2 linked regions of the Homo sapiens genome follow. The protein of the gene in region 1 interacts with the protein of each later gene in a pairwise test. Each region holds a gene or a part of one and is shown in the gene's direction. Other genes may lie near its edges.

Evidence for each region.
Region 2: the proteins of GATM (region 1) and TNFAIP1 interact in binary tests that used the Homo sapiens proteins (3 or more experiments, as listed by UniProt).

The regions. Positions count from the first base shown.
Region 1 is NC_000015.10:45,368,437-45,372,253, reverse strand, and holds part of GATM (glycine amidinotransferase, mitochondrial isoform 1 precursor), read left to right. Parts: intron 1-2,732; coding exon 2,733-2,928; intron 2,929-3,817. UniProt on the Homo sapiens protein: Transamidinase that catalyzes the transfer of the amidino group of L-arginine onto the amino moiety of acceptor metabolites such as glycine, beta-alanine, gamma-aminobutyric acid (GABA) and taurine yielding the corresponding guanidine derivatives.
Region 2 is NC_000017.11:28,341,999-28,345,815, forward strand, and holds part of TNFAIP1 (BTB/POZ domain-containing adapter for CUL3-mediated RhoA degradation protein 2), read left to right. Parts: intron 1-248; coding exon 249-444; coding exon of another isoform or gene 445-566; intron 567-2,365; coding exon 2,366-2,602; coding exon of another isoform or gene 2,603-2,705; 3' UTR 2,706-3,817. UniProt on the Homo sapiens protein: Substrate-specific adapter of a BCR (BTB-CUL3-RBX1) E3 ubiquitin-protein ligase complex involved in regulation of cytoskeleton structure.

The DNA.
Region 1 (3,817 bases):
AGACCATCGGTCTCTGTTGCAACTACTCAACTCTCAGCTGTGCCATTGTAGTGCAAAAGCAGCCATAGACAATACGTAAACAAATGAATGTGCCTGCGTTCCTGTAAAACTTTATTTACAAAAACAAGCAGCAGGCCAAATTTGCCTATGGACCTTTTTTTACCAGCCTCTGTTTAAGACTTTCACTGGCATCATTCAGTTTTTCTAAAGACCTGTTTCTTGGCTTATTCCTTATTCACCAAGCTAGGTTCCAGCGTAACTGATGTGAACCTGGATATTGAACTAACCAGAGATGGGTCCACTTTCATATATTTGATATTTGTCAGACTGAGATAAAAATGGAAGTCGAGACACAAAATCTAGAAAAGATATTGTTTTTGACATTAAAGAGCTAAACATCTAGACATTTGATCAGTCTTGATGAGTAAAAGCCATTGGGACAATTTGAACTTGTTAAGCAATTCCAGTCTTAAAAGTTTTTGCACATCTAGTTAGAAGTGTTCAAACCAGTATAACATGGCCAAGTCCCATGATGTATTAGGGACACTCTTTGAGTAACAGTCAGAGAACTTGAGTTCTAGTCCTGCTTGTCCAGATAGCTAGCAAGCATGTGACCTGCCAGAGCCTCTTTCCTTACATGTGAAATAAGCATATGAGAACTTGCCCTGTTTCTTTGATAGGATTGCTGGGAAACCAAATGAGAATATCCAGCTAAAGTAGACACACTGTGACACACTTGAGCCCATTACCAAGTTTTACACCTTTCTAGTACTTATTGCTATCTGAAATTATCTGATTTATGGTGGAGACTGTCATATCTGACATGATCAGGACTAGTAGTTTGTCAGTTCATCAATTATATAAATAAACATTTTTAAAATACCTGCTTTAACCAGTTTTAAACAAAAATTTAAATTAAAACACTTAAAACATTTTTAAACTTAAAATATATCAATGTACATTGCTTTGCTAATCTTTTGATGAAGGTTCAAGGCTTTTTCTTAGAGTCTGGATTCTCTGATTGGCGTTCTGCTTCATTTAGCTTGAAAAATGGGAAGATGCATCACGTACATTTCTCAATGTATTTATGATTGAGAAATTGACTAAGAACTTAGACATTTGGAAAACAATCTGAATGCAGAATCTGTCTAGATTTTTACATTTTTGAAAACCAATATTTTGGCCGGGCATGGTGGCTCACACCTATAATCCCAGCCCTTTGGGGGGCCGACGCGGGTGGATCACGAGGTCAGGAGATTGAGACCAGCCTGGCCAACATGGTGAAACCCTGTCTCTACTAAAAATACAAAAAATTAGCCGGGCGTGGTGGCATGCGCCTGTAATCCCAGTTACTCAGGGAGTTGAGGCAGGAGAATCATTTGAACCTGGTGGGAGGCGGAGGTTGCAGTGAGCTGAGATGGTGCCATTGCACTCCTGTCTGGGCAACAGAGTGAGACTCCATCTCAAAAACAAAAACAAACAAACAACAATATTTAACAGCTGTTGCACCTACCCTATTCAACAATAATTTTTAGCAAACTGATTGAGCCATTTTAAAGCATTCAAATGTTTTCTCTTTAGTTGTCTTCTAAAATACACATAGCCCTGGAAACTTTCTAAATTTTTTTTCAGTTATTAAAAATTTGTGAATTTGCTTATCATATCACTTCCTTGTATGACAAAAAGACTTGAAGAGATGTGAGAGCTGAATGGATTAGAAAAAGGAGAGGTGTGGTTGGTATGAGGCATATTGACAGGGAATTACCAAAGGCAGATTTGCACTGTCACACAATTTTGGCAAGTGTTAATTCTGTTGAATGGGAAAATCAATAATGTTTTTTTTTTTCTTTTTCTTTTTCTTTTTCTTTTTTTTTTTTTGAGACAGAGTCTCGCTTTGTCACCCAGGCTGGAGTGCAGTGGCACGATCTCAGCTCACTGCAACCTCTGCCTCCTGGGTTCAAGCAATTCTCCTGCCTTGGCCTCTGAAGTAGCTGTGACTACAGGCACGTGCCACCATGCCTGGCTAATTTTTGAATTTTTAGTAGAAATGGGGTTTCCCCATGTTGGCCAGGCTGGTCTTGAACTCCTGACATCAAGCTATCTGCCCGCCTCAGCCTCCCAAAGTGCTGGGGTTACAGGCTGAGCAACCATGCCTGGCCAATAATGGGGTTTTAAGAGAAATAAAGCATATTTGAAAGTATGCTCCTGATCTTAACGGGGCAAAATATCTTTTTTTTTCCCTTCACAAAATATCTTGAGGTGCTATTTTCTAGACAGAATTCTGAGATGCATGGATAGCCCATGGTTTTGGCTTAGTATAAGTGCTTTTATTCTCTTATGCTAGTTTGTGTGTTCTCTTGTTTCATTTTATTGAGGCTCTCTAATAGAAGTGCTATGTCCTGTTTTGTCTGCAAAGCATGGCAAAAAAACTGGCCAAGAGGATTCCAAGTCTGTCTGAAGGTAAACATGCTGTTAGTGGTTGGCCATGAGATCTCAGGCAGGAGGAGCAAAAGGCCTCAAAATATCAAGATGTTTTAGAGTTCTTCATTCAACAGATACTGAGTGTCTGCCCAGAGGGCTTATGTGCTCAATGCTAGGGATCAGCACTGAACATGGAGTGGTTGGAGTCTCAATTCCAATACCTTATACAAAGAGCTGTTTACTGCCTATGAACCTATCATGAGCTGTATTTTTCTCCTGTAAGTATTGTGTTTATTTGCTTCTACTTCCAGGCCAACACATATGAAAAGTACTGGCCATTTTACCAGAAGCAAGGAGGGCATTATTTTCCCAAAGATCATTTGAAAAAGGCTGTTGCTGAAATTGAAGAAATGTGCAATATTTTAAAAACGGAAGGAGTGACAGTAAGGAGGCCTGACCCCATTGACTGGTCATTGAAGTATAAAACTCCTGATTTTGAGTCTACGGGTAAGTGATGTCAGATAACTAAACTGCCAGTGTCTGAATTTTCAATTTCTTTCTTAATGTGTAAGGGGAAAGCTCCAAAAAATTTCTTGGAGAGTCCTTTGCTTTGCTAGTTCTTGAAAACTTTAAAGATTTATTTAGGAATGGTTTGGTCCATGTTGATATGATTAAGATGTATACATTCTAAACTCCATTCCATCTCGTGGAATCTCCTTGAAATGACAAGTTTTCCTAAACTTTATAGCCATTTCCTTACATAATAACAGTGGATTCGTTTAATTTTCCTCAAGAACAGAAATTAAAAGGGGAATAGAAACATTTCCATTTTATTTTTAACTGACATTGCTGCATGACTGTTCTTGTGCCTTAGGTCACTGTTCTAATTTCTAGTTTTAGATTGATCCTTGGCTCAATTTTTATCTTGTGATACCGATAGTCCTTTAAGAGCTGTGTTTCTGTATAGCAAGAAAGGAGCTTACAAATGGTGAAAGCTTGGTGGTTCAAGATCTCTTTGTACAAGGACTTTATTCCTTCACTTTTTTTTCTTTTCTTTTTTTTCTGGGCTTCCCCCCCACCACACAATTCATGTTAACAATCTAGTATGTGTTATTCGAATTTTTTGCTATTTTCATATATATATACACACATGTATTTCTAGCAATTTTTTTAACCAAAAAAAGAGGTAATATTATATAGACATTTTTTGTTTGTTTGTTTGAGACAGAGTCTCACTCTGTCGCCCAGGCTGGAGTGTGGTGGCACAATCTCGGCTCACTGCAGCCTTTGCCTCTTGGTTCAAGTGATTCTCCTGCCTCAGTCTCCCGAGTAGCTAGGATTACAGGCACGTGCCACCATGCCTGGCTAATTGTTTTCGTATTCTTTTAGTAGAGAT
Region 2 (3,817 bases), on another chromosome or scaffold:
AGTGAGGGGAGACCTCCTTCCTCAGCTGTCCCTACTTTGACTTAAAACCAACTGAGTTCCTTTTCCTCACAGGCCCCCCAACCCAGAGGGTACCCTATGATCCTTTCTCTCCTGGCCCCCTGGCATCTTGCTTTCATTTCGGCAGGACAGGATGGGGGAAGGGAGGGAGGGGAGGGCCCCACTTGTCTAGCACCCTCCCTTGGACTGGAACCTCACTCCCAGCCGCTTGGCCCTCATGTTTTTTTCAGCAACTCTGACGACCACCTGCTGAAAAACATCGAGCTGTTTGACAAGCTCTCCCTGCGCTTCAACGGCCGCGTGCTCTTCATCAAGGATGTCATTGGTGACGAGATCTGCTGCTGGTCCTTTTATGGCCAGGGCCGTAAGCTGGCAGAGGTGTGCTGTACCTCCATCGTGTATGCCACGGAGAAGAAGCAGACCAAGGTGTGGGGGATTGCCCCTGCCTGGGTAGGGGAGGACACACACCCACTGTGCGGGGGACGTGGTCGGGCTGTGACCAGCACGGAGCAAAAGGGGCATGGACTTGGCTCTTTTTTCCAAACACGGTAATGGTGCTGGGCAAGGACAAGGCCAGAACAAGGGGTGTGGGGAATGGACGGGAACTGCTTTGTTCCTGACAGCGCAGGGCAGGGGCCGTTGACCACCAGGAAGTAGCCTAGTACAGTGGGAAGGACTGGGTCTTTGAAGTTGGCCCAATTCAGGTTTGAACGCTGGCTCACACCACTTGCCAGTTTTCTGACTTTGGATAAGCCACTTAAGCCATCTGGGCCTCAGGTTCCTCATTTGCAGACATGGGGATGATAGTATGAATTTAACGAGATATGAAAATGATACAACTCTTTGGAGCAGCAGTGTGGTGTAGAAACAGCTTGGGCTTTCGTGTTAGAATGCTGTTCAGATCTCCTGTCTGAGCCAGGGACACAGGTGGGCACAGCACTTGAGCCCAGGAGTTCAAGACCACCCTGGACAACATGGTGAAACCCCGTCTTTACAAAAAATAGAAAAATTAGCCAGGCATCGTGGCACATGCCTGTAGTCCCAAGTACTCAGGAGGCTGCTGTGGGAAGATCCCTTGAGCCCAGGAGTTTGAGGCCAGCCTAAGCAAAATAGCAAGATTCCACTTCCAAACACTTTTAATAATAATAAAATAAAATCTCCTTACTGGCCCCAACCAGCTGGGGGTTTCTGGCTAATCAACTTAGTGCCAGGTACACAGGAGGCATTTGATAGGTGACAGTCATCACAAACTCAGGTGGCCCCTCTCCCCCAGGCTGCAGTCAGTTACCCCAGAGAGTAGCTGCCTCCTGTGAGTGCAGGTCCTGGAGATGATACGCTGGGGTGGATGGCAGGTCATCCAGGAAGGGCCATGTGGGTGTGAAGAGCTCAAAGTAGCCAGACTTGCCAAGCAACTTGTCGACCCCCAAACTACTCCAGGTGCCTCCAGCTGGGAGATCTGCAGAGGGTTTGGGGAAGGCCAACTTACAGGTGGCCCTGCTTCCTTCTGCGGTTTTTGGTGTAGGGGTGGGAGGGAGGGCGACAGGTGGTTCCTGACCCTATCGGTGGTGAAAGGGTTCAGGGGCAGGTCTCCAGTGGCTGGTGATGCTGCGACGGAAGTGGCAGCGCACCTGGCATCTTCTTAAGTGTGTTGTCTTTCATGAACTCGTGTGACCCCTCACAACATGCCTGTGAGACACGCAGGGCTAGAGCCACTCTCCCCATGTGACAGATGAGTGAACAGAAGCTCAGTCCAACAGAGCAGGTCTGGCTAGAATTCAGGTGCTTGACTGCCTTCCCTTTCTCCTTCCTCCAGGCAGGTCATGCCGGTGACACACTGCGTCAGGCAGGCAGAGAAAGGCAGCATAACCACTCAGCATAGCAGCTGCTCTGTGTATGCCTCTGCTTGGTGGTTTGCTGTGTGCCAATCTTCTGCTAAGCAATCACATCTTTCCCGTAATGTTGACAGCAACTCTCAGGGGTTGAGCTGAACCAACCTTTTGTACATATGGGAGCTGCAGCCCAGAAGGGTTCAGCCCAAGGCTCCACAGCTAGCAAGTGGTAGAGCTGTGTTGGGACCTAGCTCTGGCCCACCCTCTATGCCCACTAGTCCCTTGGTCTCAGGCTGGGGCAGGGGTGTGGAGGATGTTGGTCTTCCCTGTCCTCATGTCTGTAGAGTACATCCCCTCACCCCGCCTTCGGAGGGAGGCTGGCTTTCCCTGGAGACGGACCGCCACCTGTTTTATGAGAGGTAGCGGAGGCCTTATGGAGCCTCAGGGCCAGCCGCTCTGACGCATGGCTTCCTCTTGAAGATGAAACCTTGCTCCACCTTCTTCCTCCCTAACCCCAGGTGGAATTCCCAGAGGCCCGAATCTATGAGGAGACACTCAACGTCCTACTCTATGAGACTCCCCGCGTCCCCGACAACTCCTTGTTGGAGGCCACAAGCCGTAGCCGCAGCCAGGCTTCCCCCAGTGAAGATGAGGAGACCTTTGAACTGCGGGACCGTGTCCGCCGCATCCACGTCAAGCGCTACAGCACTTACGATGACCGGCAGCTCGGCCACCAGTCTACCCATCGCGACTGACCAGACCCTCAGGGAGTCAGGGCACGGGAGGCCCTATCTCCCATCCTGTGGAACCCGCCCCATTGGCCACCCCATGCTGCTGCTGCCTGGGTCTCTGCTCTAGCACCCAGAGGCATGACAGGCCCTGCTCAGAGGTCAGAGGGTCTGGGCAGAGGAGGGACCACATTCCCCTGCCTTGCCCCTGAGCACTTCTGGAGACTGCGTCCTGTCCTATCTGCTCACCATCACCCTTCCTGCCCGACGGAGCTGCTTCTGCTCCCTGGGGCATATGGACTGACCCACCTCCTGCTGAGAACCTTCCCCTAGGCCCTGTGCAGAAGGCTACTGCCCCTTAGGCCTCAGCTGGGGGAAAGGCAGTTCTGGTGCTGTAGAGGCCCTGGTGCAGAAAGTGGGACGTCTTTTTTCCTAAGGTGTTTAAGCACAGGCTTGATAAGTTTGGTTTTTAAAAAATAATCTAGGAAATGAATAATTCTAAATCTAGTAATGAGGAAACTGAGCATTTCTTTTGCCCTCCAGGGTGCCAAGACCCTACATATGACAGAACCCTTGGCCCTTCTCCATGCCTGTGGGATCTGTTTCTTTAAAGCACTTTGTACTGTTATTCAGGAGGTTGATAATCTCCTTGACCCATGTCTTTCTACCCTAATCCCCACTTCCCTGCAGAATCAATCTGAGGGAGGGGATAAAGAGGAAGCAATAAAAAAAAAACATCCGACAGAGCAGCTCTGGCTTTGCAGCCTGGCCAGCAGCTCAGAGTGCACCGAGGAGGGAAGGATGGCTAAGCTGGGACCGGCAGTCCTCACAGGGTGCCTGTGAGAAAGGACATTTTACCCCCACATCATAGTCACATCACTGACTCCTAGGTCTAGCACGACTGCTCTTTGTGATTCTCTTGAGTACCCTTGGCTTCCAGCCATGCTGTCCTCACATACGGTAAAGCCAAAGAGCTGTCACATGGGCCAGAAACATGAGCCACGGCAGGAAGACCGTGGAGCCCGTGGGCACTGCATGGTGTTGGCTGGCATGCCCATCAGCTGAGGACAGCAAACTCCCAGCAGCCCCTACAGAGGTGGCACATGCTTGGCCACACATCTACTCCCTGCCCACACCATCTATGCTCTTGGTTGGTGCTGGCTGGGATGGCGGTTCTGCCCAGTGGTGTCTCTGAGCGCGGGATGACAGGAGCAACCGAAGCACCCTGAAGGCCTTCACTCC